7 linked regions of the Homo sapiens genome follow. The protein of the gene in region 7 purifies or fractionates together with the protein of the main gene of each other region. This does not show direct contact. Each region holds a gene or a part of one and is shown on either strand. Other genes may lie near its edges. The genes, in order: STAU1, TRMT1L, WDR36, HDLBP, NUP88, CCNT2 and G3BP2.

Region 1 (4,319 bases), on a different chromosome or scaffold from region 7:
CTCAACAACAACAAAAAAGGAACGTAAAAAGAAAAATTCGTGTCTGCCAGAAGTGGTAAGCAGGACCTCAGCAAAAGCCATGGCTGACCTTCTTCTTTCCCATCACTGAATGGTCCTGGTGAGATAAACTTGAAATCAGGCCTGATTCATTCATGTCTGCCAGTCATATTGACAGAAACAGCATCAGTCATGGCCAGTTAATAACTGACTGGGACCCCAGATACCACCAGTATAGATCTTAGACTTGGCTTTAGGGTTTTTCATTTCAGAATCTTGTAGGACATTCAGAGTGTCCTTTGTTACTTCTTAGAAAGGTGATGTTGTGTTAGACAAAATTCTTAGGTAATAACATTTTCCCCGTAAGGGTGTTAATTTTGGAATGTCACCTTATTTTTTAATTGGATATCAGCTCCAGGAAATATTCTTGATTTATTTGTTTAGCTTCAGTCTGAAAGCTTCTTTCCCCACCTTGGTGGGCTCTACCGTCTAGCATCTCTGCTCTTTCTGGTTAAATGCTTCCCGTCTTCCTGTGGGTGCAGAGTGCAGCTCAGCATTCACAGGTTAGTGCACTTTGTTAGATGCTCTTTGTGGGCAGGGGTGTGGGCAGGAGGGTGCATTAGGAGAAGGAGGCAGGCTCTGCCCAGGTGTCTGTCAGGGTGCCAGTGGTCAGGTGGGGCAGGGTTTTTCTGCCGATTGCCACAGTTATTGCTGACTGGACTTTGTGTAGATTTAGACAGCAGGAGCTAATTTTTCAGTGATCTGATTTATGCTCATGGCCTTTTTTTTTTCTTCTTCTTTTTTAAGACACCCATAAAGAAACCAGGGGATGGAAGAAAAGTAACCTTTTTTGAACCTGGCTCTGGGGATGAAAATGGGACTAGTAAGTGTGATCTTAATATCGTCTTCCTCTGAACGTGATTCTGGGATTTGCATGGGTCCTGAATAACAGCAGGAGCCCAGCCAGTGAGGTCCCGCATGCAAAGTGTCTTTATCATTCCCTGATTCCCTGCGCTGCCATGCGTGCCAAGGGGAGGGCCAGCGTGGGGTTTGATGGTGTCATTGCGTTTTTCCAGGCTGTGGATGTGGATTCGTGTTTACCGTGTATGTCCCTCCCAGGTAATAAAGAGGATGAGTTCAGGATGCCTTATCTAAGTCATCAGCAGCTGCCTGCTGGAATTCTTCCCATGGTGCCCGAGGTCGCCCAGGCTGTAGGAGTTAGTCAAGGACATCACACCAAAGATTTTACCAGGGCAGCTCCGAATCCTGCCAAGGCCACGGTAACTGCCATGATAGCCCGAGAGTTGTTGTATGGGGGCACCTCGCCCACAGCCGAGACCATTTTAAAGAATAACATCTCTTCAGGCCACGTACCCCATGGACCTCTCACGAGACCCTCTGAGCAACTGGACTATCTTTCCAGAGTCCAGGGATTCCAGGTAACTGTCTGGCCTGAGCTGTGATGGCTGTGCCTCAGGACAGTCATCTTTTGGCTTCTCTCAGAAAATGAACTTTGAACTTTGTACTTTTTTCTTAAATCAAGTTCTGTCCAGGGATGGGCTGGGGAGCAGTGATGGAAGGGTAGGAGGTATAGAAGTATTGTAAGCATATGTGGTAAGAGAAATATCTTTATCCTTTGGTAGTAAGATTTCAACATGCAAGCCAACCCTAAAAGCTTCTAACCACTAGCAGTGGTTGTAAATTTGGATTTCAAAGAACAGACTCATCGTGCTGACACTTTCTGTCTGGTAGGAAAGGATATGGCTTCTCCCAGTCTTGGGCTTCTGAGCAGACACCTAGGTTCCTGGAAGGTTCTGGGCTGACAGGGCAGGTGTTAGTATGGCCACAGTGGGGCTGAGTTGGAAAAAAGAGCTGGTGATCTTGCTTGTGGGGCCTGGAGCTGCAGCCCTCCAGCCCACTCATACTTGCTGTTCCCTACCTAGCCTCAGCTCTCTTTTCCCCCTTAGGTTGAATACAAAGACTTCCCCAAAAACAACAAGAACGAATTTGTATCTCTTATCAATTGCTCCTCTCAGCCACCTCTGATCAGCCATGGTATCGGCAAGGATGTGGAGTCCTGCCATGATATGGTACGTCACACCTTGGGTGAGGGATTGGGGTGTTGTGTGTTTATGTGGAGCCTGCCTTGGTTCAGCTTGTTACTAGCCTGAGGAAGATGGGAGAAAGATTGTCCCATAGACCTTGAGAGCAATGAATCGTTTGATAGTGTTCATATTTTTGAAGACTTTTTGTCATAGCTGATTGGATCGATTTCTCACTCTTGATCAGAACTCATCAGCTTTAGCCCACCTTTCCCTTCCTTTTCCCTGCTGGCCTGGAGGGGCAACTGGGATCCTGCAGCTCACCCAGAGACTGCACTCACTTCATCTCTCACCAGAACAAGGAATTGCAGGTCCACGTTCTGGCAGCTGTAAAAACCACTTGCTTTGGTCTTCTGTTCAGATGAAATTATTGTTATAAGAAAACTGAGAAAAGGAATTGATCAGATCAACAAATCTAAGTAAACTGTGATGTATTCACTTGATGGGATGTCATGCATGCATGAAATTAATGTCTCTGGGTGGGGTGTGGTGGCTCACACTAATCCCAGCACTGCGGGAGGCTGAGGCAGGCGGATCACCTGAGCTCAGGAGTTCAAGACCAGCCTGGCCAACGTGGTGAAACCCCATCTCTACTAAAAATACAAAAAAAAATTAGCCAGGTGTGGTGGTGGGTGCCTGTAATCCCAGCTACTTGGGAGGCCAAGGCAGGAGAATCGCTTGAACCCGGGAGGTGGAGGTTGCAGTGAGCCAAGATTGCACTACTGCACTCCAGCCTGGGCAGCTGGGTGAGACTGCGTTTCAAAACAAAACAGTGTCTCCGAAGATAATGTAATAAGAAGAAAAATACATGATAGGCCGGGTGTGGAGGCTCACACCTGTAATTCCAGCACTTTGGGAGGCCAAGGTGGAAGGATCGCTTGAGCCTAGGAGTTTGAGACCAGCCTGGGCAACTTAGTGAGACCCTGTCTCTATAGAAAGAAAAATACATGATAGATTTTTGTTAGAAAGCAGGATATAACATTTATACAGTCTGGTTACCACATGGTTAAAAATACTAGAAGGAAAAATATAACATTTTCAGAGGTTATGATTCAGTGAGGTAACTGAATATTTTTTAATTTGTATTTTAAATTAAAAATTCAAAGTTTTATTTAGTAGTACCAGAGTTGAAGAAGTTGCCACCTGTTTGCTGGGCAGCAGGAACTCTCTTGCCTGCCTGACCAGTGTATTATGCTGTGGTCCCAAGCGGTGGCTGTGGCTTTACCCTTCTTTCCATCCCCACTAGGCTGCGCTGAACATCTTAAAGTTGCTGTCTGAGTTGGACCAACAAAGTACAGAGATGCCAAGAACAGGAAACGGACCAATGTCTGTGTGAGTGCACTGATGAAGGGGAAGGCGCTGATGATGGGGAGGCTGCCCCTCGTTTGTGTTGAGTTTACACTATCTGCTGACTCAGCGGGGAAATATTTGCCTGAGTTACTTTCTGGCCCTTTTGCCTGAAAGTTTTCCAGATTCTCTGGGCAGAAAGCTCTACTTTTAAAAGACATTTTGAGGCTGGGAACAGCGGCTCACACCTGTAATCCCAGCACTTTGGGTGGCCAAGGCAGGTGGATCATGAGGTGTCAGGTGTTTAAGACCAGCCTGGCCAAGATGGTGAAACCCTGTCTCTACTAAAAATACAAAAATTAGCCAGGTGTGGTGGCAGGCACCTGTAATCCCAGCTACTTGGGAGGCCGAGGCAGAGAACTGCTTAAAACCTGGGAGGCGGAGGTTGCAGTGAGCCGACATAGCGCCACTGCACTCCAGCCTGGGCGACAGAGCAAGACTCCGTCCCAAAAAAAAACAAAAAAACCTTTTTGAGTTGGTCATACCTTCACATGGTCAGAACTCTGCATTATTTTACAAGGTACAATCTTCCCCTCGGACAGCCCCCATCCCATCCCTCCTATTCTCCCCACCGCCTCCCCCATAGATCACATTTTTACTAGTTTCTCCTGTATCTTTCCTGTATGTTTCTTTATACAAATATAGACATATATTTCTTCCCTCATTTTCTTCCTTTCCCCCCACAGAGATAAGTACACACACTCTCCTTGCGTATTTTACTTACTGGCATACCCTGGGAAAACTTTTGTTATCATAAACTGGGGCTTTTAGTATTGTACTTCCTGATGTTTGCCAATTTCTTTTCATTTTTAACAGTACTTTAATTCTCTTACATTTCAAAACTAGTGTCATTTTCATTTTTCTTCCTTAAAG
Region 2 (4,319 bases), on a different chromosome or scaffold from region 7:
GATTGAGCCACTACATTCCATGGAGGCTGGGTGACAGAGCAAGACCCATCTTTAAATAATAATAATATGAAAAATTACCTTTTAATAAATTTGAGCAGGAGTGTCTGATAGTGCTGAATTGGATTCCAAAATTATTGACACAGTGTGCTACTGCATCCAAAAAGTCTAACAATTTTTTTAACTTCTTGTTTAACAAACTTTAGTGCCTCCTATCTGCAAGCTACTGCATTAGGCACTTAGCCATCAGAAAGATGAACAAGAAATAGGCCTTGTCTTCTGTTGATTATTTGTGGGGAAAGCGAACAAGGACACAAATTATACAAATGGGTAAACGAACTGATAGTGAAGCTCGGAGAGGAGTAGTCAAGAAGGTGCTAATATCAAGAATTGAATTTTAAAGTCTCAAGGTTTTAAATTGTATAACCTAATAACATAATATTAGAGAGCCCTGTGGTTTATCCCACCATCTCCTGTCTCCTTGGGCTCTTTACATATCAGTTTCTCCTAATCTTAATATATATTCAGTCCCCACTTTGTAATTGTTCCTTTCTCTTGGAATGCACATATATTCAGGTTCCCCATACTTAAAAAAAAGCAAGTTACAGTCTGATTCATTTCCTTTTTTATACCGTCAAACTTCTCAAAAAAAGAAAAACCTAATTTTCTGTATTTCCTTTCCCCTTCCAATTCTGTTTCTACTCTGAAACACCTCCCTGAACCTGTTTTCTTAAAGGTCACCAGATGTGCTTTCTTGATCTCTACAACTGTTTGTGATATTCAGTGTTGAACGTTTTGCGTTTATAGACTCTTCTCCCTTGGCTTCTGCATTACCTTGATTCCCCTTACCATTTATTCTTTCTGAATCTACATTCCTGATTCCTTCTACTTAATTTTTCTTATAAATATCTACATCTCTCATACCTCACTACCAGATTATATCTATCTATAATAATCAGTAGCGGGTTCAGCAACAGGTAGGGAATGTATCCCCTACCCACCCCAGTCAGAACATGTTAAACTTATTTTAGACTTATTCATGTATTTCCAAATTTAATTTAATTTGAAGAGTGTGTAATGCTTGAGAAACCTGAAAATGCATTAGTGGGACAAATATGTAATGATTGAGAAATTTGAAATGCATTAGAATTAAAATATAAATCACATTTTAAAATTAATTTTACATAGCCTAGTTGGTTGTTTGAAATCAGTCATAACTAGGTAAGACTGGGTCTTGGCTTTTTCTCTTATTTTTCACACTTTTTTTCTTAGGCTTTCTTATTTATTCTCATAGTTTCACCTAATGTGTTACTTACGATTTGTATCTCTAGAATCCCTCCTGAGCTCCAAAAACAAATTGCCAGCTGCCTATTATACATTATTGCTGGAATACTGTACCAGTAGTACATCAAACACACCATGTCAAAAACTAAATTTTCCTTTCTCTTTTCCCCTTCCTTTCTGCCATAAGAGTTTCTTCTGTCTTGTTTGCTTAATATACCATTATTCTCAACCACATAAACTCAAAATCTTGGAATCATCTTTGATTTTATCCTTCACCTTTACTTCTCATATCCCAAGTTCTGTTGCTTATTTTTTTAACCTTCTATTCTGTCCCTTCCCATTGCTAATTTTCTCTGTTACTGATCTTTGGTATTACTGGCAGAGATAGCCTCCTGAAACTCATTCAGATCGTATAATTCACTTCCTCAAAAACCTGCAGAGACTTACCATTATTTGAAGAATAAAGTTCAAACTAACTTGCGTAGAATTTATGTTTTCCTTGGTCTGTACTGCATCTTCAGCTGCACATACTTCTACTGACTCCATCCCCCCAAACATACCACATTCCAGCCAAGGGTGGGGTGGCATGGTTGTATGTTTTCTACACATGGATTTGTTCATGAGGTTACTTCAGTTCATGAGGCCAGTTAGCAAATCTCTACTTAATAGTGTTCATTTCATCCTATCTCATATGATAGTTAGAAGTTGACATATTGCCTTCTCCCACCTGATTGAAAGTTCTTTGAAGATAGAAAACATGACTTAACGTTTCCTTCAGTATTTTGTATAGGACAGAAACATTTTTCATAGAATTATTTTGACTAATTAGATAAAATTTTAAAACTAAGTTTATACAGTGGGGTCTCCCCCCAACTTTTCATTCTAAAGCACACTTGTTATTTTATAAACCGAGTTGTGGCAGTATTCCCCATCTAGGTCCATAACACTGTGTTATAGGAAATAAACTTCTATACGATGTGATCAATAAAAATGGAACTAGAATACAAACTGTTAAAGCATAATCTTCTCAATTTTTTTTTTCAGAGAGACACATCTCAATTCAAAGGCAGCTTGCTGATCTAGAGAATTTAGCTTTTGTAACTGATGGAAATTTTGACTCTGCCAGCTCATTGAACTCAGATAATCTTGATGCAGGTATTTCCATGTTTGGGTTTTTTTTTTTTCTTAGTTTCTAATAATTTATCATCTTTCAATTCACAAAAATAAGTTTGGTAAGAGTAGACTTGTTTATTCTTACTGAACTAGAACAGTGGTAAAATACAGTTTTTTATTCAGGAAATTGGCAACCGCTTATGTGCAAAGTTGCTATGGAAATAAGTTATTTTACAACTCCTCAAGAAAATTATAATTTCACGGATGTCTAGGGGCTGTCTATTCGGCAAGTTAGGAATGGCATTTGGCTACAAGTAACAGAGGTCCCAAAAAACAGTGTCTTAAGAGGTTAATATTCTGTCAGGTAAATGAAGTCCCAAGATAGGCAATTTAGGGCTGGTATGAGAGTTCCACGTTATCAGTGCCCCACACTGCTCTCTTTCTGCTCTACTCTCCTTAGTGTTTGGTTTGTATCCTCAAGATCGCTGACTGCGTGGTTTTTTTGAAGTAGACAGTGTAAAAATAAAAATTGTACCTATACTCTATTGTACTGTATGTGAAAGATATTTGTTGGGTTAAAAATTATTAATATGAGCTGACAGGTATGTAGGTATAAGAGAAAAAAGAAAAAAATTACTAAATGAGTTATTAATGATTCTTGCTGTATATTTTATTGCTTTAAACCTGAATTTGAAATTTAATTCTTTCATCTATACTATCAAAGTTTTTATTTGAGATACATTATATTTCTAATTAAATAAGACATTTTTATGATACATAATCTTTTTGAGAATATGTTAATAAAGAAGGCAGAACTTGTAAATTCAGTAATGGATACGGTGGCTGTAACTATGCGCCCCGTCTCAGAACAGCGGTTATATCAAATCCCATCTATTCCTTCCACTTCCTTCTTCCATTTTTCTAACTCCACATGTTAACTGTTTTTGTTGTTGCCAGTTTAGTAGAGGAATACCACAGCACATACTTTTGCTCTTTGTCCAATCCCTGTCCTTTTGGGAGTGTAACTGCTGTCCTTTCAGCTGTCCAAAATACAGAGTGATGCTCTCAGTGGCAGAAAATTTGGCCGGAAGGATGTCATACAGTTTATCACTTCTTCAACCTTTGTTCCCAGTAACGACAAATGCATCCACTAGCTACAGAGAGGGAAATTTTAGGGTGAAAAAACAATCACTGATCATGTGCTGCAACAATTACTGTTAACTGTCTCCTGGGTCAAGAATAATGACTTCTCCCTAAAGTTAAGAAAGACTTTAAGAAGTAGGAGGGGGAGCCCCCATTAACCTCTTTGTAGTTGAATCCAGGCATTAATAACTAGAATATTCTGTTGTTTATTGATTCTTTTTTCTTTTTAAGGCAACAGACAGGCTTGTCCATTGTGCCCTAAGGAAAAATTCAGAGCTTGTAATAGCCATAAGCTTCGTCGTCACCTCCAGAATTTACACTGGAAAGTCTCAGTTGAATTTGAAGGTTAGTATTTTTGTGCTTGCAAAGAAGTAATATATATGAAATTCAACATTTATTACCAGTTTTGGCATTTTTATCATGAGTATAATCAAATATTTTCAGTTTAAAATGTGAGGGGTTTAATGCCCTCATTTCTAATGTATTTAATAAAACACCATATAGCTTTATAGGCAGTAGAGATCTATATGACACAGTTTAGTTGAGCAAACATTTATTATGCATCTGTTGTATACTGAGTACTCTGACCCTGGGAGTCCATTTTGCTTCTTGAACAATGTTTTAATAAGTTTTCCTTTTATTTTACACATATTTTGGAAGGTATAGTACATGTAGTAAAATAAGAAAATAAAATAATTTGTATGAATATTGGAAAATACAAGATAATATCTCTTTCTGCTGATGGCTTAAAAAAACTACTGGAGTTAAGAGAATTCAGAATG
Region 3 (4,319 bases), on a different chromosome or scaffold from region 7:
ACTCATATCCCTAGGAAATGGATGTATATTTTCCTTCAGATTACAAGATCAAGTTTACTATTACAGTCTCCTTTACTAAAAGGTGAAAATACAAACCAAGAATTACTCAGGTATGAAAATACATCAATATTCACTCCACAGGGAAAACAATACAACAAATCATTAAAGTTGGAGAACTGCAATGGAAAATACATTAGTTGAGGTAAGCACATTAAACAGTTTATAAGTAGTTAACTTGCTAAAGTTGTTTATCTCTTTCTTACTTAGAACTTTTTTTCTTACACGTTAAAGATTTTTGATTTTTTTAATTTCTTACTATTTACAGGCAAAATCTCTGGCATAGATGTTTACATAGATTTTAAATTTTAATTAAACACATACTACCCTAAGATAAAGCAAATAAATGAGTTAACTCTTACCTTCTGAATATATGTGCCAAATAATAAGAATGCCATCAGTATCAACAGAGATAATGTGGTCTCCAAAGGGTTGCAAGAAATGGATTTCTGCCTTATGACCCTTAAAGGTATGTACTATCTAAAACATCGAAGTTTAAAAGAATTTCATATTATTACTCAGTCATCATGTCATATTATTCATATTATCCCAAAAACATGCTAATCCTGAGATGCTTCTGTTAAGAAATGTACCCCAACTTTTGATTATTCAAGGTTAGGATGAACACATAAATATTAAGGGACCAGGCATGTTCATCTGCTCCCTCAGCCAGTTCAACAATAAGGAAGTAAACTGTCCATTAAGAACAAAGAAATGAGACCTCTGAGGCTCTGCCTTCCATCTTGGGTTAGAGAGGAGGCATGCACACACACCTAGTTCCCTCACCCAATTCAATCAGTGCAACTACATATATCCTAGCGAGATGGTATATTCCAGAAGGCTGATCTCTAAAGACTCCATCACCAACTGGCTTTCAGATGAGATGGGAAAGGGGGATATAGGGTCTTCTTCCCCATACCCTTCTGCTTTGACAGAGATCCTTACAGTAGCTGATCCCTCCATAAGTATAGCCCCTTCTCCATGGTTTCAGTTCTCACTAGATTCCAGTAACACTGTTTCCTCTCCTTGGCCCTTTGGCCTTAGGGGTGGTAACAACTTCCTACAGTTGACAGTGTCTGACGCCTCCCCACCCCTATTTTGTTCCCCTAACCCTGACCACACCTGTGCATAAAGGTCCTTTATTAAAGTCTCCACATCTGAACCACATATAGGTTATACATATAGGATAAAGTCTCCTCATGTAAATCACATATATCTCCCTGGGAAAACTATAAACAACAATACAAAAATGAACATTTTTTCCAATTCTAAAAATCTGAACACCTTCCATTAAAGAACTCTACAGATAAGTTACCTTCCTCTGCCACAGGAAGTGATGATGAAAGACTGTGGGAACCACCTCACTCCAAGTCCCTGACAAGTACAGTGATACTATCATTTGGCTATCTTTGTACCCCCATTCCTACATTTCCTTTCATTCTAGACCATTAAGGCCAGGTCACTTCTCAAGCTAGTTGTTCCAGGACAAATTCAGAAACCAACTGGTAGATTTAGACCAGAAAAGATCTTTCCTTAGCAGTGGAGAAAACATAGAATCTAGCTTTCTCTAAACAGCGAACAGGCATCTGATTTTTAGAAAAAGAGTTATAAGCTAAGTTATACATAATAAATAACCAATCCACATAAAGTGGTGGTGCAAATATGAATTTTCTAGGAAAGTATTTTAAAACTACACTTAATAATACACATTATGTCCTATCTCAACAAATATACAAAATAGAAAACTCCTGAGATGGGAACTAACGGCATAAAAAATTTTGAAGAAGGTCTCCAAGTAATTTTGATATTCATCTCTGGCAAAGAAACTGAAGTAAAGCACCAGTTTTAAGTAAGCCTTTTCTGAAAATTTATCTTCCTCCAGAAAACTGAATATACATTAGAAAAAAAAGAATACTGTATAGTTCCAGAGTGTGCTGGGTAAAGAATGACAAAATTAAAGTTCCCTCCACTATCATGACAAACAAATACTGACTGACAAACAAGTAGTTTAGCGATACCAACCTCTTTATTACGGGCAAATGCAGAGAAAACATTTCCATAAGCAGCAAAGACTAATCTGCCATCAGCTGCCATACAGCAGATATCCTGTGGAACAGAATTACCTAGCAGAAAATACAAAATGAAAGAAACAGGGATTTTTAAGATGTTAAAGAGAAACCTCAAGTATACATATAACATTTTTCATGGCTATAATTTAAAAAAATATATAAATAAAGATCAAAGTTGAGAATCAGTGTATAAAATTTTAACTAAAATATTTTAGATATCTAATAGTAACTATCAAACTAAGGATAGGAAATCACCTTGTCCTTCCCTAAGAGAATGTCTAGGATTTGCAGAAATAAAAACATAATCCTAGAGAAATGAAAACAAGCTTTTTGAGGTTATTTGGAAAAAACTGTCATTTGAAACACAAAGCTCTGACAGATAGTCATCCAGTCTTCACGTGAACATCTTTTTTTTTTTCTTTTTTTTGAGAGACGGAGTCTTGCTGTGTCACTCAGGCTGGAGTGCAGTGATGCAATCTTGGCACACTGCAACATCCGCCTCCCAGGTTTAACTGATTCTCCTGCCTCAGCCTCCCAAGTAGCTGGGATTATAGGAGTGCACCACCACACCCGGCTAATTTTTGTATTTTTAGAAGAGACAGGGTTTTGCCATGTTAGACAGGCTGGTCTTGAACTCCTGACCTCAGGTGATCTGCCCACCTCGGCCTTCCAAAGTGCTGGGATTACAGGCGTGAGCCACATGCCTAACCCATGTGAGTATCTTCTGGAACATCAAGTTCACTAATAACTCCAGAAAAATTTTAAAAGTAACTCAAAATCTAAATCTCTAACTCTACCCTTTGGACCAACCCAAAAATATTACATATGGTATTCTATATGCCTATTCCTAAAACATTTAAAGACAATATTGTTTCTACAGTCTTCTCCAAGGGAAATATGCCTATCAATCTTTAGCATTTCTCACGTGACATATGATTCTTCTCTCAGTATCCTGGTCACACTGACCTTTTCATTTCCTCTTTTGGGGCAGGAGGGTTAGTAGACACAGGATTGTTGTACTTTTCATGCTGCAAATTCCATATTAGTATTTGTTTGCATAACCCTGTTTTATAAGTTTATCATTCACTTTTGTATTCAACTTAAGTTCCAATGCCTTTCTTCTGCCTTCTAATCTATTATTAAAATATAAGTTTAATACACATACACATTACAGTCCTTGTAGGTCTTCTGTTTCTCTCACAAGAACCATATTTGATGGTAAAACAAGTACCTCTCTGCCCTGAGAAATGTTTTATTCTATTAGATAGTTTAAAAAAAAACCCTTCCATTGGAAAGAAATACCAAAATGTGAGAAAAGGGAAAACTTCTCCTTACAGTAGAAGGAATGATGGCAAAAGAAAATCACTATAGGCTGACTATGCTTTATCTGAAATGTTTGAGACCAGAAGTGTTTCAGATTCCGGATTTTTTTGGATTTTGGACTATATGTATAACCAGGTGAATGTTCCTAATCTGAAAATCTGAAATCGGAAATGTTCCAATGAATATTTCCCTGTTAACGTCATGTTGGCTCTCAAAAAGTTTCAGACTTAGGAGCATTTTGGGTTTCAAATTTTTGGATTAAGGATAATCAACATGCATTTGGCAACCATCATACTAATAACTGATTCAGGCAAGTATCATCATAAAATATAAAAGCAGCAGGTAATAACTTTGAAGAGTACTAAGATATTTACATAGTCCCAGTGCATACTACCAAAAGATACTTATTCGTTACAAATGACAAAACACTAACTTAAAAATAGAGCCTCCTAACCAATCACTACCAGGAACAGAACCAACTAACAGCATGTGCCTTCTGATACAATTCACTGTGATTCCTCCCAAGGGGTACAACCTAAATCTAATCCTGAAGAAATGTCAAAAAAACTCAAACTGAAGGACATTCTAAATGAGCCTGTACTCTTCAAAAATGTCAATGTGTCAATGTCATGAAGCACAAAGAAAGTCTAAAGAACAGTTCCAGATTAAAGAAAATAAAGATACATAACAACTAAAAGCAAAACATGATTTATCCTGGCACCCTTTTTTGTTGCTGATAATGTAAGTTTATAAGACATACATGTTACCTTGGCTTCCTTATATGCTCTGTAAGTCTCACATTTATGTCAAAATAAAAAAAAAGTTTAGATGTGCATAAATTCAGAATAAAGTCCATACTTACTTACTGCA
Region 4 (4,319 bases), on a different chromosome or scaffold from region 7:
TCCCAGGCTAGAGTGCAGTGGCGCGATCTTGGCTCACTGCAGCCTCCAACTCCTGGGTTAAAGTTATCTTCCTGTCTCAGCCTGCTGAGTAGCTGCGACTACAGGCATGTGTCACTACACCCGGCTAATTCTGTATTTTTAGTAGAGATGGGGTTTCACCATGTTGGACAGGCTGGTCTCGAACTCCTGACCTCAGGTGATCCACCCGCCTCAGCCTCCCAAAGTGCTGGGATTACAGGCGTGAACCACCGGACCTGGCCAGGCTCTACTCTTTCCAACCAAAAAAACGGGGCCTGTGATGGCTATACCCTAGAGCCCTTTCAAGGACTGACCCTTTACAGCAGGGCTCCTCAACCTCAGCGCTGCTGACATTTTGAGTCGAATACTTCTGTTGCGGGGGCTGCCCTGTGTACCACAGGATGTAAGCATCTCTGGCCACAACCACCAGATGATTGTAGGTCACGACAACCACAAAGGTCTCTGGACACTGCCAGATGTGCCCTGGGTAACAAAAATCACCCTGGTGATAACCACTGCTAGAAATAAATAGCGTGATGACTAGTATATAGGAAGCAATGAATACAAAGTTGTTTATTTGTTTTTTTTTTTTTTTTTGAGATGGAGTCTCGCTCTGTCGCCCAGGCTGGAGTGCAGTGGCGTGATCTCGGCTCACTGCAAAGTTCCGCCTCCCGGGTTCACGCCATTCTCCTGCCTCAGCCTCCCGAGTAGCTGGGACTACAGGCATCCGCCACCATGCTCAACTAATTTTTTGTATTTTTAGTAGAGACGGGGTCTCACCGTGTTAGCCAGGATGGTCTCGATCTCCTGACCTCGTGATCCACCCACCTCAGCCTCCCAAAGTGCTGGGATGACAGGTGTGAGTCACCGCGCCCGGCCAAAAAGTTTTAATAGGTGAGGATTTTTATATCATTCATGGATTCTTAAACGTGATCACAAAATCAGATGTTTTATGAGTGACTACCAGCTCCAAGTGTTATCCTTCCAAACTTGAAAACTGAATTTCTGATAAACTGAGTTACCCAGGTTCTGAGGCATCTGTTTAAAAAAAAAAATGAAAAATGAAAAACCCACTCAGAGATTCAGCTTTTTTTTTTTGAGATGGAGTCTTGTTCTTGTTGCCCTGGCTGGAGTGCAATGGCGTGATCTCGGCTCACTGCAACCTCTGCCTCCCAGGTTCAGGCAATTCTCCTGCCTCAGCCTCCCACAGCTGGGATTACAGGCATGAGCCACCACGCCCGGCTAGTTTTGTATTTTTAGTAGAGACGGGGCTTCTCCATGTTGGTCAGGCCAGTCTCGAACTCCTGACCTCAGGTGATCTGCCCGCCTCAGCCTCCCAAAGTGCTGGGACTACAGGCGTGAGCCACTGCGCCTGGCCTCAGCTTTCTTATTTTTAAAAGAAAGGAGCTGAAATCCTACAGGTCAAAAAGTACCCCAAGTCAGGCTGGGAGCAGTGGCTCATGCCTATTATCACAGCACTTCATTGGGAGGCCGAGGCTGGCAGATCATTTGAGGTCAGGAATTCGAGACCAGCCTGGCCAACACGGCAAAACCCTATCTCTACTATTGTGCATGCCTGTAGTCCCAGCTACTCAGGAGGCTGAGGCAGGAGAATTGCTTGAACCCGGGAGGCGGAAGTTGCAGTGAGCGGAGATCATGCTGTCATACTCCAGCCTGGGTGACAGGGAGAGACTCTGTCTCAATAAATTAAAAAAAAAAAAAAAAGTATCCCAAGTCCCCAAGTCATAAGGCTGATAAGAACAGGTCCAGGGAGTAGCTCTGAACCTATTCAAAAAAAAAAAAAAAACGAGGAAAAGCCCAAAATTGAAGTGAGGTCTCCTGACTCCCAGTACAGTCAAAGACACCATCCTTTCATTTTTGTTTCTTTTTTGGGGGGCGGGGGGGACAGGGGGGCAGTGTCATCCTAACCTGGATAAACATCTCAACTCTTTGTTGAGTCAGGGAGAAATAATCAATATCCTGCCTTCTGTACCTAAGACAGCAAGTACTGCTGCAGGTCTCACAAGGTCTACCTCAAGAACTTCTGAGACTACAACAGAGGGAAAAGGCAAGCCCTAGAGTGGATCTGAAAAACGCTTATTTGAAAGAATTCATCGAGACTGCTCACGCCACTTGCTGACTGTTGACTTTGACATCAGCCACTTCTTACCTCTTCCTGCCCCAGGAGAGACCTGCGGTCATAGCACTGGGGTCTCTGGGATACAGCTAAGCCTCCTGAGAGACTGGAATGGGATGGGTAGGGGCTACACGAATAATGGTTTAATTAACATTGACAGTATTAATAGATTAATACTGCAGTGGGCTTGCTGTAGTGATGGTCTACCAAGGAACTTGATTTTTTAGCTTTAAAAATATTCTAAAAGATAACTCAACAAAACAATGTAAAAACTGGCAACCCCCCCATGAGGCTTTACCAAAAAATATATTCTAAACTGTATCTTCAAAACTGTAATTTTAATTATACTTTAATTATAATTTTAATACATGATTTAAATAAAAATAGGATCTTACATGCATTCTTTCACCATCTGCTACACTTATTTTCATTTGAAAAGACACCATGGCCATCTTTCCGAGTACCAAATACAAATTTACCTCATTTGTTAACAACTACATGTTGAGTGGAGTAAACATACCTTAATAAATCCCCTACTGATAGGACCCTTGAACTAATTTTTTTTTTTTTTTGCGATTATAAACAATGCTGGAAAGAACATCCTCTGCTCACTTGGGCCTCTACCCCCACAGGATAAATTGAATTGGAAATGGAATTATATGATGACAGGCAATGCATTGATAGATATTGCCAAGGTAAAACTGCCCACCTCCCAAAGAGTTTAACTAGTTACACTCACAACACCTGATTACAGAATACCTGTCCTCTTCTCCTTTGAGGACAACTAAAATGATCATGTTTATTCTTTTTTCCAGCCTGATGTGCGGGAAATACGATTTTAATGGCAACTCTGATCATCAGTGAGACAGCAATCTTGTTGAGCTTATTGACCTTTTGAATTTCTGTACTGTGAAGATCAAACTAATCACAACCAATCCGTCGTCCACCTTTCTACCAGTGTTTCAGCAACGCTTGTGAGACAAAGCAAAATCCACATCTGGGCAACAGAGCAGTAGGAATGAACAGAAAGAATTATAAATTTAAGTGAAACTCAAGTTGTATGCCAAAAATAACATTCCTAAAGGGCACCCAGGCAAAAGTGATGAGAAAATACTATTAAAAAGGACATCTTTTGCCTCAATTAGTCACACAGTAGACAACGTAAGCTGATGACCTGAGACACCTCAGCCTGCCAAAGTTCCGTTTCATTCACAAACATTAACCTACTCTGCTTTAAGAGAAGGGCTCCCCCAAAAGGTAATTGTGCTTGCAGAAAAGCGTCAAAGTGTATACTGTTTTGCGGGGTATGCAGACCTGGGTAGATGGTAGACTGAGGCTGACTGACAAGGCCAGGTTAGGGAAGCAGTGAAGTAGCTGAAGGCACAAACTGGAGCCAAACCACTAACTCTAGCCTTTGCCTCAGGGTCTACCTCGACCTGTGATAACAACAATACTTGCCTCCTACAGGTGACAGGAAAAGTAAGAAATGTCGTGAATGGTGTGGCCCATGGTCACTTCACCACGATCCACCACCAGTACTGGGTCACTCTGCTCCAGCTCTCCAAAGGCATCAAGATCCGACTGCTAGGAGCCCCGGCTTCTTCCCTGACCTGCCCGTCTCCTACACCCTCTGGTCCTGCTCCACACTGGTCTAATAACTGGTGTTCCACATTCCTCTAACGTGCACAACACAGTCCTGCCCCCGTGCTTTTCACCTCCTGTCCATTCCTCTTATAACGCTCTTCCCCAGATCGCTGCCCATGGCTTGTTTGCTCATCTCAAGTTTGAATCAACTGTCGCTCAATCAGCAAGGCCTCCCCACTATGCCAAACTGCCACTGTGTCCCCCACTCCACTCCCCTCGATACTTTATTTTCCTCCTTTCTTCTTGTCCACATTGGACATACTGCATATCTGCTGGTCTGCTGACTGCCTGACACCGCTTACCAAAACGTGACCTCCGTGAAAGTGCAGGAGAACACACTTGCATTTTCCTTACTGTGTCCCACTTCCTGGAACAGTGTCTCCAGCACGAGCCGTTGTCAGATCAATACATTTACACTACTTCGTGAAGCACCACTAAAATGATAGTAAACGATTTTTTCTTTTTTTAAGATACAAATCACGAAAGCAAAGAATAAGAATAGAGATAAGAACATTAAAAT
Region 5 (4,319 bases), on a different chromosome or scaffold from region 7:
TTTTTAGGGGTTGGGGGGCTCAGTTTCCAATCTTTTAAATTGAGCAGGTTTGATTCAATAGTTTCTAACGCCCCTTCCAAGCTTTGCACTCTATGATTAAATGCCCTAATGCTACGTAGATTTCTACTCTATTATCAGCTAACTTTCTGGATCGGCCTTATGTAAAAAGTTATTGGGGGGACTCAGCAGAGGTACAGATACCTTCAGTTTTATTTTTCGTAATCACTGCTTTTAACTGTGCTCTACTAAATCTTCCTTCACTGCTGAATGACTCACCCCTTAATGATGTCTTATACAGATCCCCATAGCTTTCTCGTTACTTCTAGTTATGAAAACAGTGTGTCCAGTTTAAAACTCATCTTGGCTGGTTGCAGTGGCTCACACCTGTAATCCCAGCACTTTGGGAGGCCGAGGTGGGAGGATCATTTGAGCCCCTGAGTTCGAGACCAATGTGGGCAATACAGTGAGATCCTGTCTCTGCAAAAAAAATTAGCTGGGCATAATGGCATGTGCCGGTAGTCCCAGCTACTCAGGAGACTGAGGTAGGAAGATTGCAGCCTGGGTGACAGAGTAAAACCCTGTCTAAAGAAAATAAGAATGTCGAAAGCTATTTGATCTCAAATCTTTCACAACTATGTCCTGGCCCTTTTGTAGGTCAGACCTGTGTTTTGTGGGATCAGAAGTGATTGGAGAGTGTGCGGTCTGCTCTTTCACTCTTCCTGTTATCCCAGCACTTTGGAACATAGGGTGAAGTGTAAGGAATGGGCTGCCCCCTCCTTCCTCCAAATCTAACTCCTTCAGTGTGGGGTAGGGGAGTGGGACAGGTGAGGTAGAGATCTTACCGAACTGGTAGCCTGTGAGTGATGGGGAAGTATGCCTGATCTTGTTTGAATCTCGTTCCATCTGTCACTAGTGAACTCTGTTGATGTGGTAGTCTCTGCATAGATGGTGTGTTTGTGTGTGTGTATGTGGGGGGGTGGGGTGGTGTTGGAGGGCAGTGTTGAACTTCCAGCTCCCCCCATCACTGAGGAGCTCTGGCTCCCATTGGCTCCTGTCAGTTCTCTATGCCCTGAATCTTCTCTCAAGATGGGGTACAGTATACTTTATCTGCAGGGTGTGTGTTCCAAGACCCCCCAGTGAATGCCTGAAACTGTAGATAGTACTGAACGTGATACGTGTGTATTGCTATGTTTTTTCGATCTTATAACTGAGACAGCTACTAAGTGACTAAGGGGCATTCAGCTAGGAAATGCACCAGTCTCCCTTATTACAGGTACCTCCACATCTGGCTGTTTCCTAGAGCCTTCCCTGCCCACCCATTTGGCTTTAGAGTTCAGGGCAGAGAAAGAGGAGAGGGAAAATCTTCCCATTACAAACATTATACTGTACTCCTAAGGAATCTTTGACATCCTCTCTTCTTAGTCTTCCTTTTATATGCTATGATGGAAAAGGAGATGGTGGGAAGATAGCATAGGTACAGTTCTTAAGCCCCAAAGGAAGTATCTGGCCCCAAATATTGAAGGTTCTTTTTTAAAATATGTGGTATTTAACACTTCTGTTTTCCTAAGCTTTGGAGATTTTGGGCAGTTTCAGAGCAAAAGGAAATTTTCACCGAATGCCCTGTTGCACCTTCTTTTTCTTTCACTGTTCCCCAGTACAACATTATTGCCTAGTATTTATGTGTATTTTGAAGTTAGTAACGCTTGTAGGAACCTAGGAAGACTGTAATAAATGTGTATTCAAATGGATCAAGTTATCATTAAAAATTTATTAAATACTTAATGTGGCATTTTATTGATATTGGAAGAAACCAAGTTAAAAAATTCTTAGTGGCGTCAGACAAAATAAGTGATTATAAGGGACACTGGATTTCTAAAATGACATTACTGGCCTTTTGAAAATTCCCTTTTTCACAATAGCCTTATATGCTGTGAAATGTAGGTTACTTTAAATTAAAATAATTTTGGTTAAAAAAATTCAGTATTATACTTTCCCTTGAAAATAGAGATGATACGATACTGGGTTTGTTTGTTTGGTTTTTTTTTTTTTTTTTGAAATGGAGTCTCGCTCTGTCGCCCAGGCTGGAGTGCAGTGGCGTGATCTTGGCTCACTCCAGCCTCCAGCTCACCGCAACCTCCACCTCCCAGGTTCAAGTGATTCTCCTGCCTCAGCCTCCCGAGTAGCTGGGATTACAGGTGTGTGCCACCACACCCAAATAATTTTTGTATTTTTAGTAGAGACGGGGTTTCATCATGTTGGCCAGGCTGGTCACGAACTCCTGACCTCAAGTGATCTGCTCACCTCGGCCTCCCAAAGTGCTAGGATTACAGGTGTGAGCCACCGTGCTTGGCCAATATTGGGTTTTTATATAACAAACACATAAGTAGATTTGCAGGCTAAATATCACTCACTCTGTCAGCCAGTTGGCATATAAAGAATAAGATACAGTTCTTTCTCTGGTGGGATTTGGTGTCCAATAGGCAGAGATAGATGTGTGTAGTTGAAGGAAAACTGGCAAGCTTAGGGGCAATAGTGAGATGACTGGACAAGGCGAGTATAGCTAAGGGCTCAGGACGGAAGTGACAGAGGTGCGATGTTATGGAATAGGCTGTTAAAGGGTATTGGTAAGGATAGAGAACATTTCTTCAGGCCCCAATGAAACTCCCTTATGTAGTTAAAGAATAAATGAACTAGACTACTTTGCAACAGCAAGATTTTTGCAAAGAAATAGTTGTGATAAGTGTTAGAAAATTCTCAAGAACTGACTAGATGGAGAGGAAAGTGCAGTTTTGGGAAATGAAAACAGAATTTTAAGTGCTGGTTTTCTTCTCTTTTGGTTGCTAGAATTTACTCACTACGTGAGCCGCAGACACCCACTAACGTGATAATACTTTCAGAAGCCGAAGAGGAAAGTCTAGTACTCAATAAAGGGTAAGTTTTTATTTGAGTCTTGAAATGGTTTTTTAATTAGCTTATTGGGATTATAAATGCAATTTTAACAGGTTGCAAGGTTTTTCAGAGGTGACTAGCATGCTTTTGGTAATGTGAGAAGTAAGTGTATTTTTAGTAGAACAGGGATTCGTCGTGTTGGCCAGGCTGGTCTGGAACTCCTAGGCTCAAGTGATCCTGCTCGTCTCAGCCTCCCCAAAGTGCTGGAATTACAGGCCTGAGCCACCATTCATTTCTTTATCACCTTTCTATGTGATAAAGAAACTAAGATAATATCTTGCATTGATGTTTGCTCTCTCAACTATATGAAATTGTGATTTCATTTTAACCATATTTGTTAACTTTGTATTGAACTAGAATCTTCCTGAATAACTACAGTAAATTTTAAATATAAAAACAGCATGGTTTTATGATTTGCCTTCTTGATATACATGTAATGTATATTTGCTGTAGAAAATTGAGAAAAATAGATCAAAGTATTAGGAAGAAAATGAAAATCTTTGTAATCTCCTATAGCTATAGCCTGTTTCAATACAGCACCCAAAGTTTAATCACATCATTCTACTTTAATCTAAGTTTAATCAGATCAGTTTAATCAGATCATTCTACTTCCCTGCTCTCCATACCCCATTGATTTCCCAGAGTCTTTACCTATAAAGGGTCCACAGGTATGCCACCTGATTGCCTTTCCAGCTTCATTCCTCCCTCTGTGCCCTGGCTCTCTGGGCTCCAGGCACCTTGGCCTCCTTGCCATTCCACAGACATTAAGCACTTCTACCTTAGAGCATTTGCTCTCCACCTCAACTGCTCCTTCCCTAGTTAACCACAGACTTGCTCTCTTACTTCCTTCAGATCTTTGCTCAAATATCTTATCAGAGTCTTTCCTATACCAAGTAGTCTAAAGTAGCACCTCCATCAATACCCTCTTACCCTACTTTATTTTTCATGATATTTTCTGAGTTTATGTTCCATCTTTATTTCTTCTCTTTTTGTGGTATTTCTCTCTCTAGAGGGCAGGACATTTGTTTAATTCACTGACATATTCCCAGACCCTAGAAAAGTACCTGGCACAGAGTAGGTGCTTTGCGAGTATTTGTAGAACTTACGGATCCTGCTGCTCAGAGACAACTGTTGATGTTTTCATGTGTTTTCCTGTTTCCTTTTTGCATTTATGTGTGTGTATATAATAAATTTTTGCTATTTGTATATCTGTGTATTTAAACTATTTAAGATGAGAGTAGAACCAAATAATTTTATGGCCAGCTTTTTTCACTTAATTTCATGAGAATTTTTTTTTTTTTTTTTTTTTTGAGACGGAGTTTCGCTCTTGTCGCCCAGGCTGGAGTGCAATGGCACAATCTCGGCTCACT
Region 6 (4,234 bases), on a different chromosome or scaffold from region 7:
AGCACTTTGGGAGGCCGAGGCGGACGGATCACCTGAGGTCAGGAGCTCAAGACCGGCCTGGCCAACATGGTGAAACCCCCTCTCTACTAAAAATACAAAAATTAGCCGGGAGTGGTGGCACACACCTGTAGTCCCAGCTACTCAGGAGGCTGAGGCAGGTGAATAGCTTGAACCAGGGAGGCAGAGGTTGTGGTGAGCTGTGACAGCGCCACTGTACTCCAGCTTGGGTGACAGAGTGAGACTCTGTCTCAAAAAAATAAAAAAAAAATTAATAAATAAAAGAAGTGAAGACTTGTGGCTAGATCATTTATTGGAAGTACAAAAGTATGCCTGATTCGGCAAATGGGACATCTGTAGCCATATAAAGAATAGTCAGAACTATTTTGATTTGTAATTTCTACCATTATTATCCAGGGTTACGTAAGGAATGCCAAATTTATATTAACATTCATTAGTTCACTACTGCCTTTGGAGACAATTTATAATGAATTCCCTTAATCTAAATGTTATCACCAATGGCTTCCTTTCTCTTCCATAACACTATCACTGACCTAAATGTTATGCACAAGAAATAACTAGGAAACTAGAAGCAACAGAGCAAGAATTATGCAGATTTAAAAAAGAAATAGAAGAAGTCTTCAAGAGATCAAAATGTATATTAAAATACTTGTGGTCCAAGATAAACCTGTATGCCAAACTGATAAATGAAATAGGATCCGAAGAGATTAAGGTAGGACTCAATCTAAACCATGAAGCCTTTCCTTCCATTTCAAAAATAATATTCTGAGGATCTTTCCTAGGATTGTTTTCTTAGCAAATAAGTCCTAATGACTATCCACAAATAGCAGAAAGTCTTCTTTGGTCCATTTTTCTACACATACCTTTCAGAATAATATTCTAAAAATAACTATGATAAAAAGTAACAAATAAAGACAGAATTAAAGCAGAGTTAAACATTTCTAAACAATATGCAATTTTCTTTAACACACACAACACAGTATGCGTGTTACTCAACATACACCAAACTCGTATCTTTCATAAATGAAATTAACATTTCAACAAAATGCCATTACTCTATTTGTCAAGGTTTACAGGTTATATACCTTAATATTCAGGTGTAAATTTTACTAATAATACATAAACATACTCCTGACGTACTATATCTGAAGCAAGAGTGGACGTTTGAATCACCCAAAATTTTAGGAGACAACTGATGCTAACGTGATAAACAGAAACGTTGACATCTTAAGAAATTACTAGGTTAGCAAATGAAGAAATGAATTATTTCTACTAAATAGCTCTTTCAAAAGAATGTCATAATTAATTTAATCTCAATTGACAGTCTTTTAAACAATGAGTCCAACATAATTAAGATGTATCACAGAACGACCAGGCTTGCCCAATTCCACTGTACATCACTACTGAAATTATTCAAATGTTAAGTATAGAATTTAAATGAAGAAAACCTATGTAATAACTCTGTAAAGAAATAAATGTTTTTCTTTTTTAGCTTAAAAGGCCTGGCAGAGCTTAACAGTGCCTTGCAGTTTAATTCATCATAAATTTTAAAAACACAAAAACACCGCATCTGAAGCAAAATATTTATCACGTGATATACGTTTACCGTTAATTCAGAACACTAAATCCAACAACGCAATGACCAACTTTTTTTCTGCGTATCGATTTACCCTCAAATTTGCGGACAGTAAAAACAGACAACTAGTACTTACATTTTTGTTGAATTTGGTGAAAGAATGGTGCATATAAAACCTGTGCATATAAACAATCGCAGTGTTTATTGTAAGCTGAGAGCTGGAACGTAATATTTAGGAAATATCTGACAAAAGCAAGATCTCATTCCCAGAACAATTTTGATGGAAAATTCCCAGGTTCTTTTCCAATACCTCCCATTCAAATCCAAACCCCAAACTGGAAATAAAGAAATAAATGCCCGCGGGGGGTGGGGCGGCAGGAAGAGAATAGGCTTGACGCCAAATAAATGGGAATAAGAACTGCTGATCTTTTCACTCTAACAGCGCTGAGGGCCCTGGAACTATTTATCAATGGCTACGACTAACTAAACTCAAAATGAAACAGTTGAAACGCGCGCGCACACACCCATACAAAACCACGCCAAGAACATAAAGAACTCCAGTACGCTCCCAAGGTAGAAGAGAGCCGCCATCAAGCCGGCGACGAGAGCCGGGAAAGGCTGCGGCAAACACTTAGGCCTTTCAGCATCGCTAACCCTCCTACCTCTCAAACCCTTCGGGGTCAGGGACAAGTCCAGGGAGCCGCCCCTTTTCTGCAATAATCCCTAAAATTCCTCTTTCGCCTGAGCCACACTCCCAACCCCCGCCGCCACCACCACGCGCTGCCCCAAACAGATTACACAACGCAGGCTCCTGGCCCGCATTCCTGGGGTCCTATCTCCTCCTCCCTTCCTCTGCTGACCCCTCGCGACTGCCCGAGCCGGAACATTACTTCCCTGACCGCGGCGCCGAGGCCCAGCGAAGGCCGAGGCCGGCGGCGCCATGTTCGCGGGGCACCAGGCCCGGCGACCGGGCAAGGGAAACAGGGCGTGAGCGGCGGCGAACAGAAAAGGATACACATTGAGACGCTGTCCCATCTCCTGGATGAGGTTGGCCGCCTGCTGGCGGCACGAGAGCTCTTTATCCGCCTCCACTCCGCAGCGGCGGCTCGGCGTGTTCTCCAGCTGTTCCCGAGTAAAGAACCAGCGAGAAGAAGCTCCACGGCCCGACGCCATGACACTTCCTCCTCCGCCCGCTCCTTCATTCACCCCCCGCCCCTCCTGGCTCGCGGACTCCCCGCCAAGGCGCGCGACCCCGCCCCACTCCGCTCGCCGTAGACCACGCACCACCCTTTTTCACCACCGCCTCCGCCCTTGCGCATGCGCGGGGCCCGCTCTACCGACTCGCCCTAGTCTTTTGCTTTCTTTTTCTGCCCTCGGCCTCGCTCTTGCGCACGGGACCACAATGCTCCGCGCCGCTTGTCATTGGGAGGCGCCGAAGGTGGAGAGGTCGGCTCGGAAGGAAAAGGTCGGCGCAGCGCATGCCGGGTCTAGGGTTGGCGGGGCGAAGGGGTGGGGAGGGAAGGGGCGGGGAGGGGAGGGGAGGGGAAAGTGGGAGAGGGTGGACTCTGGCCGGTGTGAAGAGAGGCGGTCGGGCGGCTGCGCTGTGGGGGCCTGGGCGTGTACTTCGGAGGCCCGTCGGGCGCTTCCTTTAGACGGGAGGTCTAGCGGCCCTTTAAAAAGAGAAAAATAACCTTCACTGTCGCAGCCTCACGCCACTACTTCCATTTTCCTTTTGGGCGGGTCCGCGCAGTCTCGTAGGCGTGCGACTCCGGCCTCCGCCACCAACAGTCTCCGCCTAGCGCGCGGCTCTGGCGTTGAGCTGGCGGGGAAAGAGTGCACAGGAAGTCACGCTCCATGGCTGTCCGCACCTGAGTGCTTTTTTCACCCTACATTATCTTGTTTAAATCCCAGACCACTTGGTTTATTTTTATTTTTTCAAATTACTTGGCAAACGCTATCCAACTAGCAACGAGAAATTGAATTTCTAAATGAGGTGTTGAATCTAGACGGGGCGTGTTTTCAGGCTGCGCTGTGGTTTCTGCGAGACAAGGTTGGGGAGAATCAGATAGTGCAGGAGGAACTGAGTTAAAATTTTATCTTTAGGATTTGATGTGGGAACATCCCACATACCTGTTGATTAACTCCTGTATTTCTTCCTGTAAGAAAATGCCACTGAGCTTCACTCGGAGTTTGTGTTGTGAATAGGGTTTCTAAGTTTAAAGTCTTAACTATTTGGAGGCCGGGCACGGTGGCTCACGCCTGTAATCTCAGCACTTGGGGAGGTCCAGTGGGCCGATCACTTGAGGTCAGGAGTTCGAGGGCAAGGGCAACATGGCGATACCCCGTCTCTACCAAAAATACAAAAATTAGCCAGGTTTGGTGGCGCGCCTGTAGTCCCAGCTACTCCCGAGGCTGAAGTGGGAGGATGGCTTGAGCCCAGGAGGTGGAGGCTGCGGTGAGCTAGATCTCGCTGCTGCACCCCAGCTTGGGCGATAGTGCAAGACCTTGTCTCGAAAATAAAAAATAAAGTAATATCTATTTGCCAAAGACCATGGAGGCAAGTGATTGTTATGGGGCTCCCACGCTCAGCATACTGCATTGCACAAGAATATTGATTATAGTAGGCAGTTTTTGTAACAG
Region 7 (4,319 bases):
TTGTTGTAACAAGGTTCAAAAAAAGCTTCAAATTGCCCACTATCTACATGGTCACTGAAGTATAATGGCCAACATACCATCAATTTAGAACAGAGAGACAGGGAAGGGCAGTAGAAGTAATATTTGATTAATCAATACTCAATAAATTAATACTTAGAACTATTGGAAGGCAGTAACTTGAAAAGTTAACTTCAAATGGTAAATAAGTAAGGCAATGCTAATCTGGTAAAATCTAAACAGGCATATAACAGGTTATATAGAAAGCTGAGCTTTTAAGGTGCAGAGGAGGCTCCCAAAGGAATGGTAAAACAAAATCAAGATTTACTGAGAGAACAGTGTTTCAACTAATTACATCAGTTACTTCTTTAACCATAACTCCGATTTGAAGTGACTCAGAATTTAGAGAGCCAAAATATAATTGATAGAAATCAACCAGAAAATGACTACTAGAGATCAACCATCAAACAACGTGGTTTGGGTATTGCAGGAAATAAGACTATGAAAATTGAGTAAGTAATATAAAGTTCGTATTTATAATTCATGCAGTGTACGTAAGAAGGTTGAGAAAAAGGAAAAAAGCCAAATTACACTTTCAGAATAAAAGTGATTACAAGAAGAAAGAATTGTGCCATTTTTATTATTCATAGCAAATCATCTTACAGGTAATCCATTTCTAGATCTGGGACCTTCCATTTCTTAAAAAAAGTTAACAAAACGAAACAAAATTCTGAATATGGGAGTAAAAGGTTTCAACTATCTTATCCATGGCCATGAAAAACTCATGACCTTACTGGATCTCGATTTCCTAGTTTACAAATTGAGAAGAAATCCCCGGTCAAGCCTACAAGACTATACAGTTCTACAAAGATAGCCAAGAAGGCCTGGTGCAGTGGCTCACACCTGTAATCCCAATATTTTGGGAGGCCAAAGTGGGTGAATCGCTTGAGCTCAGGTGTTTGAGACCAGCCCAGGCAACATGGCAAAACCCCGTCTCTACTAAAAAATACAAAAAATTAGCGGGGCGTGGTAGTGTGCAAGCGTAGCTCCAGCTACTCGGGAAGCTGAGGTGGGAGGAATGCCTGAGCCCGGGAAGTCAAGGCTGCAGCGAGCCAAGATGGCACCACCGCACTCAAACCTGGGTAACAGGAGTGAGACACTGTTTAAAAAAAAAAAAAAAAAGATAGCCAAGATTAAAGGATACTTATACACAAAAAGAAATCTTTAGAAAGTTCTTAGATTAGCACCTTCAAAGATAACTACCATCTTCAATAAGGTGGTTGTTAGCCTCACCTAACAACCTTTTTAGAAAAAGTTAAATACAATATATCACACTCCACTTCTTCCAATGACACCTGAAAATGTGAAGAATCTCACACAGGAATGCACAGTGTAAAATTTTATCTGATACATTAGCTCTATACACAGTCAAAGCTCTCTCATGAACAAATCCGTCTTTTACTTGTCAAATGAAAACATTATCCAAGGCCAGGCGCAGTGGCTCATGCCTACTTCCCAGCACTTTGGGAGGCAATGGCAGGAGGATCACAAGGTCAGGAGATCGAGACCATCCTGGCTAACACAGTGAAAGCCCGTCTCTACTAAAAATACAAAAAATTAGCCAGGCCTGGTGGTACGCGCCTATAGTCCCAGCTACTCAGGAGGCTAAGGCAGCAGAATTGCTTGAACTCAGAGGCAAAGGTTGCAGTAAGCTGAGATCACACCCTTGCACTTCAGCCTGGGCAACAAGAGCGAAACTCTGTCTCAAAAAACAAAAAACCGAAAACATTATCCAGTATAGTTTAGAGGCTTTTTACTCTCCAACTCTGCCTATCGCACCTAAAATCCCAGTGAATCTTCATCAGAATATTTTATTCATTCCTGTTTCTTAAAATGTTTCCTCTGCATTTGCCTAATTCCTGAAGCACATGCACTTCAGCTCTCACGGAAAATTGCTCTATATTTGTCACCATATTTTCTGAATCTATTAATTATACACATTGAGAGAGAGTGGAGTATTGGTAGATAATACACACTGAGAGGGAGTGGAGCATTGGTAGACATACATGCAGATTAGAAAAGAAAGTCACATTGAGCTTCATTATCCTACAATGAACTTATATTTCCTCAGTTTCAAAATAACGTAAAAACCAAAGTTATCACTCTCCTTTCCTCAAACTTTGACTAAAACGTCACCTTTTAGGTAAGAAACATTTAGGTTTTTTGTTTACCATTTAAAGTTCAGTGAATCACTACTATAATGGGGCTGCCTCCAAAACAATCAATCTTAGGCTACATTAATTTAGATGTAATATCTAAAATGAGTTGATTGCTAATTGAATATAGTGAATGGAAATTATAAGAAGGTAGATTTGGGTGAAACATAACACAAGAATAACGCGAGTTGTCCAAATATCAAATAGAGCTACTTAACAAGTAGCCAGTCACTACAGGTATTCCAGAGACTAACTGAATGGTTTGGCACAAACATAGTAGAGTCCATACATCCAAAAAAGTAAGATTAGGCCATTCCAACACTAAGATCCTAAAAGTCTGTTAACAAGAAGCAGGACTTTTGACTTCTCCTCCAATACTCATCTCACACCTTCCTATCTGCAATGATTGAAACCCTATGCATTTATCTGGGCCCAGCAGAAATCCTGTCCCCTTGAAAATCTTTCTACTCCTACTGAATTCCTCAACAGAATATAACTCTTCTCTATTAACTCTTAAAGCACTTTTGGCCTTTATCATAGCAGTTTATTGATCATGCTCTGCCCTAAATTACTAACTGTACACCTGTCTTCATCTTCTATTCCCCTCTCAAATATTATAACTCAGCTCTCCTTTGAATGCAATTCTCTGGAAACATCACAATTCTTCTCAATAATCGAATGACTTCTCAATCCTCCACCCATCTGCATTATCAATGTTGACTACCTCCTCCTAACTCTTCTAGAGTTCTATAAGGCAAATTTTCCTTCTCATCCAAACGCAGAATTTCTCAAGGTTCTGTCTTCTAACCTGGCAATTTCAGCTTCTGGTCTCATGTCTACCTAAACGTGTATCTAGTCTATACCATAAGTTCAAATTTTACATTTGTCACCACATACTGAACACCTAGACATGACCCACATATGTCCCAATACACGCATGCACCAAAGAAAGCTATTTCCTTATTTCTGTTAAAAGTGTCATAATCTTCTCAACTTGAAAGCTCAGTCGTGACTTTCTCCCCTTTAGCTTTGCCACTTAAACTGTGAAATCCTTACAATTCAGAAGGTGGAATTTGTGCCCTCCTTTTCACTCCCACTGTTCAGACCTTTTATTCTTCAAAAGTCTTTCAAGCCCCTGTATCACGTGTAGTATATACTGTACTGAGTAAAATCCAAACACCTGCATTCAGTTTGGCATCTAAGGCCCTACACAGAAATCCAGTCTGACATTCAATGTCATAACCAACCTTTCAAATTTATCTCCTACTATACTTTCTCATCCCTGTATCAAATTCTATACAAATATTTTAATCACCTAATATTATTCTCTGCAATTTCACTCTCTGCGCCTTTGTCTTACTTCATTCATTCCCATCCACAAGCTGAGTCAATGGGTTATACAAAATAAATTCATTTCAACATTTATTTTATGGCTACTATGTATGTACCAGAAACTACAAAAGGAAAAAGAGGCCGGGTGCAGTGGCTCACGCCTGTAATTCTAGCACTTCGGGAGGCCGAGATGGGTGGATCACCTGAGGTCAGGAGTTCGAGACCAGCCTGACCAACATGGCAAAACCCATCTCTACTAAAAACACAAAAAAGTTAGCCGTGTGCAGTGGCGGGCGCCTGTAATCCCAGCTACTCAGGAGGCTGAAGCAGGAGAATCGCTTGAACCCGGGGGCGGAGGTTGCAGTGAGCTGAGTTGTAAGTACTTGGTATTAGTTATTATAAAAAGAATAAGACCTCTAGTAATAGGAGGCAGTTCTCTTTACCAGATACTGTTACCAAAGGTTATGTGGGTGCTAAGACACAGCTTATCTCCACTATAGGATACTTACCCCTTTCCCCTCTGGAGTCCCTCACTCATAGCTGGGCTCAAACTAGTCAGGTTTATTTATTTTAATTGAACCATGGACTATATCCATTTCCAACAGCTAAATGCATATTAATACTGGAACTTTCTGAAATTCCAGATGGTTTTTGTTTGAAGTAACTTAAACAATCTAAGGAACACTATACCTTTTTAAAGAAATGACCTTCAATCTTTTGTGGTACACCATTGAATGAAAGCTTCACAAAGAAGATCTAAGAATCATAGTGGTA

What was found.
Region 1: the proteins of G3BP2 (region 7) and STAU1 purify together in Homo sapiens (affinity purification with mass spectrometry; 3 studies listed by BioGRID and IntAct, with this or other methods). This does not show direct contact.
Region 2: the proteins of G3BP2 (region 7) and TRMT1L purify together in Homo sapiens (affinity purification with mass spectrometry; one large-scale study listed by BioGRID and IntAct). This does not show direct contact.
Region 3: the proteins of G3BP2 (region 7) and WDR36 purify together in Homo sapiens (affinity purification with mass spectrometry; 2 studies listed by BioGRID and IntAct, with this or other methods). This does not show direct contact.
Region 4: the proteins of G3BP2 (region 7) and HDLBP purify together in Homo sapiens (affinity purification with mass spectrometry; 2 studies listed by BioGRID and IntAct, with this or other methods). This does not show direct contact.
Region 5: the proteins of G3BP2 (region 7) and NUP88 purify together in Homo sapiens (affinity purification with mass spectrometry; 2 studies listed by BioGRID and IntAct, with this or other methods). This does not show direct contact.
Region 6: the proteins of G3BP2 (region 7) and CCNT2 purify together in Homo sapiens (affinity purification with mass spectrometry, with the first as the bait; one large-scale study listed by BioGRID). This does not show direct contact.

Annotation. Positions count from the first base shown.
Region 1 is NC_000020.11:49,114,894-49,119,212, reverse strand, and holds part of STAU1 (double-stranded RNA-binding protein Staufen homolog 1), read left to right. Parts: intron 1-804; coding exon 805-880; intron 881-1,116; coding exon 1,117-1,436; intron 1,437-1,964; coding exon 1,965-2,087; intron 2,088-3,345; coding exon 3,346-3,431; intron 3,432-4,319. UniProt on the Homo sapiens protein: Binds double-stranded RNA (regardless of the sequence) and tubulin.
Region 2 is NC_000001.11:185,149,942-185,154,260, reverse strand, and holds part of TRMT1L (tRNA (guanine(27)-N(2))-dimethyltransferase), read left to right. Parts: intron 1-2,325; coding exon 2,326-2,436; intron 2,437-3,768; coding exon 3,769-3,882; intron 3,883-4,319. UniProt on the Homo sapiens protein: Specifically dimethylates a single guanine residue at position 27 of tRNA(Tyr) using S-adenosyl-L-methionine as donor of the methyl groups. Dimethylation at position 27 of tRNA(Tyr) is required for efficient translation of tyrosine codons.
Region 3 is NC_000005.10:111,094,940-111,099,258, reverse strand, and holds part of WDR36 (WD repeat-containing protein 36), read right to left. Parts: coding exon 4,312-4,319; intron 2,181-4,311; coding exon 2,080-2,180; intron 538-2,079; coding exon 420-537; intron 1-419. UniProt on the Homo sapiens protein: Part of the small subunit (SSU) processome, first precursor of the small eukaryotic ribosomal subunit.
Region 4 is NC_000002.12:241,305,163-241,309,481, forward strand, and holds part of HDLBP (vigilin), read right to left. Parts: intron 1-4,319. UniProt on the Homo sapiens protein: Appears to play a role in cell sterol metabolism. It may function to protect cells from over-accumulation of cholesterol.
Region 5 is NC_000017.11:5,409,315-5,413,633, reverse strand, and holds part of NUP88 (nuclear pore complex protein Nup88), read left to right. Parts: intron 1-2,844; coding exon 2,845-2,931; intron 2,932-4,319. UniProt on the Homo sapiens protein: Component of nuclear pore complex.
Region 6 is NC_000002.12:134,917,388-134,921,621, reverse strand, and holds the start of CCNT2 (cyclin-T2), read right to left. Parts: upstream 2,801-4,234; 5' UTR 2,768-2,800; coding exon 2,610-2,767; intron 1,813-2,609; coding exon 1,731-1,812; intron 1-1,730. UniProt on the Homo sapiens protein: Regulatory subunit of the cyclin-dependent kinase pair (CDK9/cyclin T) complex, also called positive transcription elongation factor B (P-TEFB), which is proposed to facilitate the transition from abortive to production elongation by phosphorylating the CTD (carboxy-terminal domain) of the large subunit of RNA polymerase II (RNAP II).
Region 7 is NC_000004.12:75,666,127-75,670,445, forward strand, and holds part of G3BP2 (ras GTPase-activating protein-binding protein 2), read right to left. Parts: intron 1-4,319.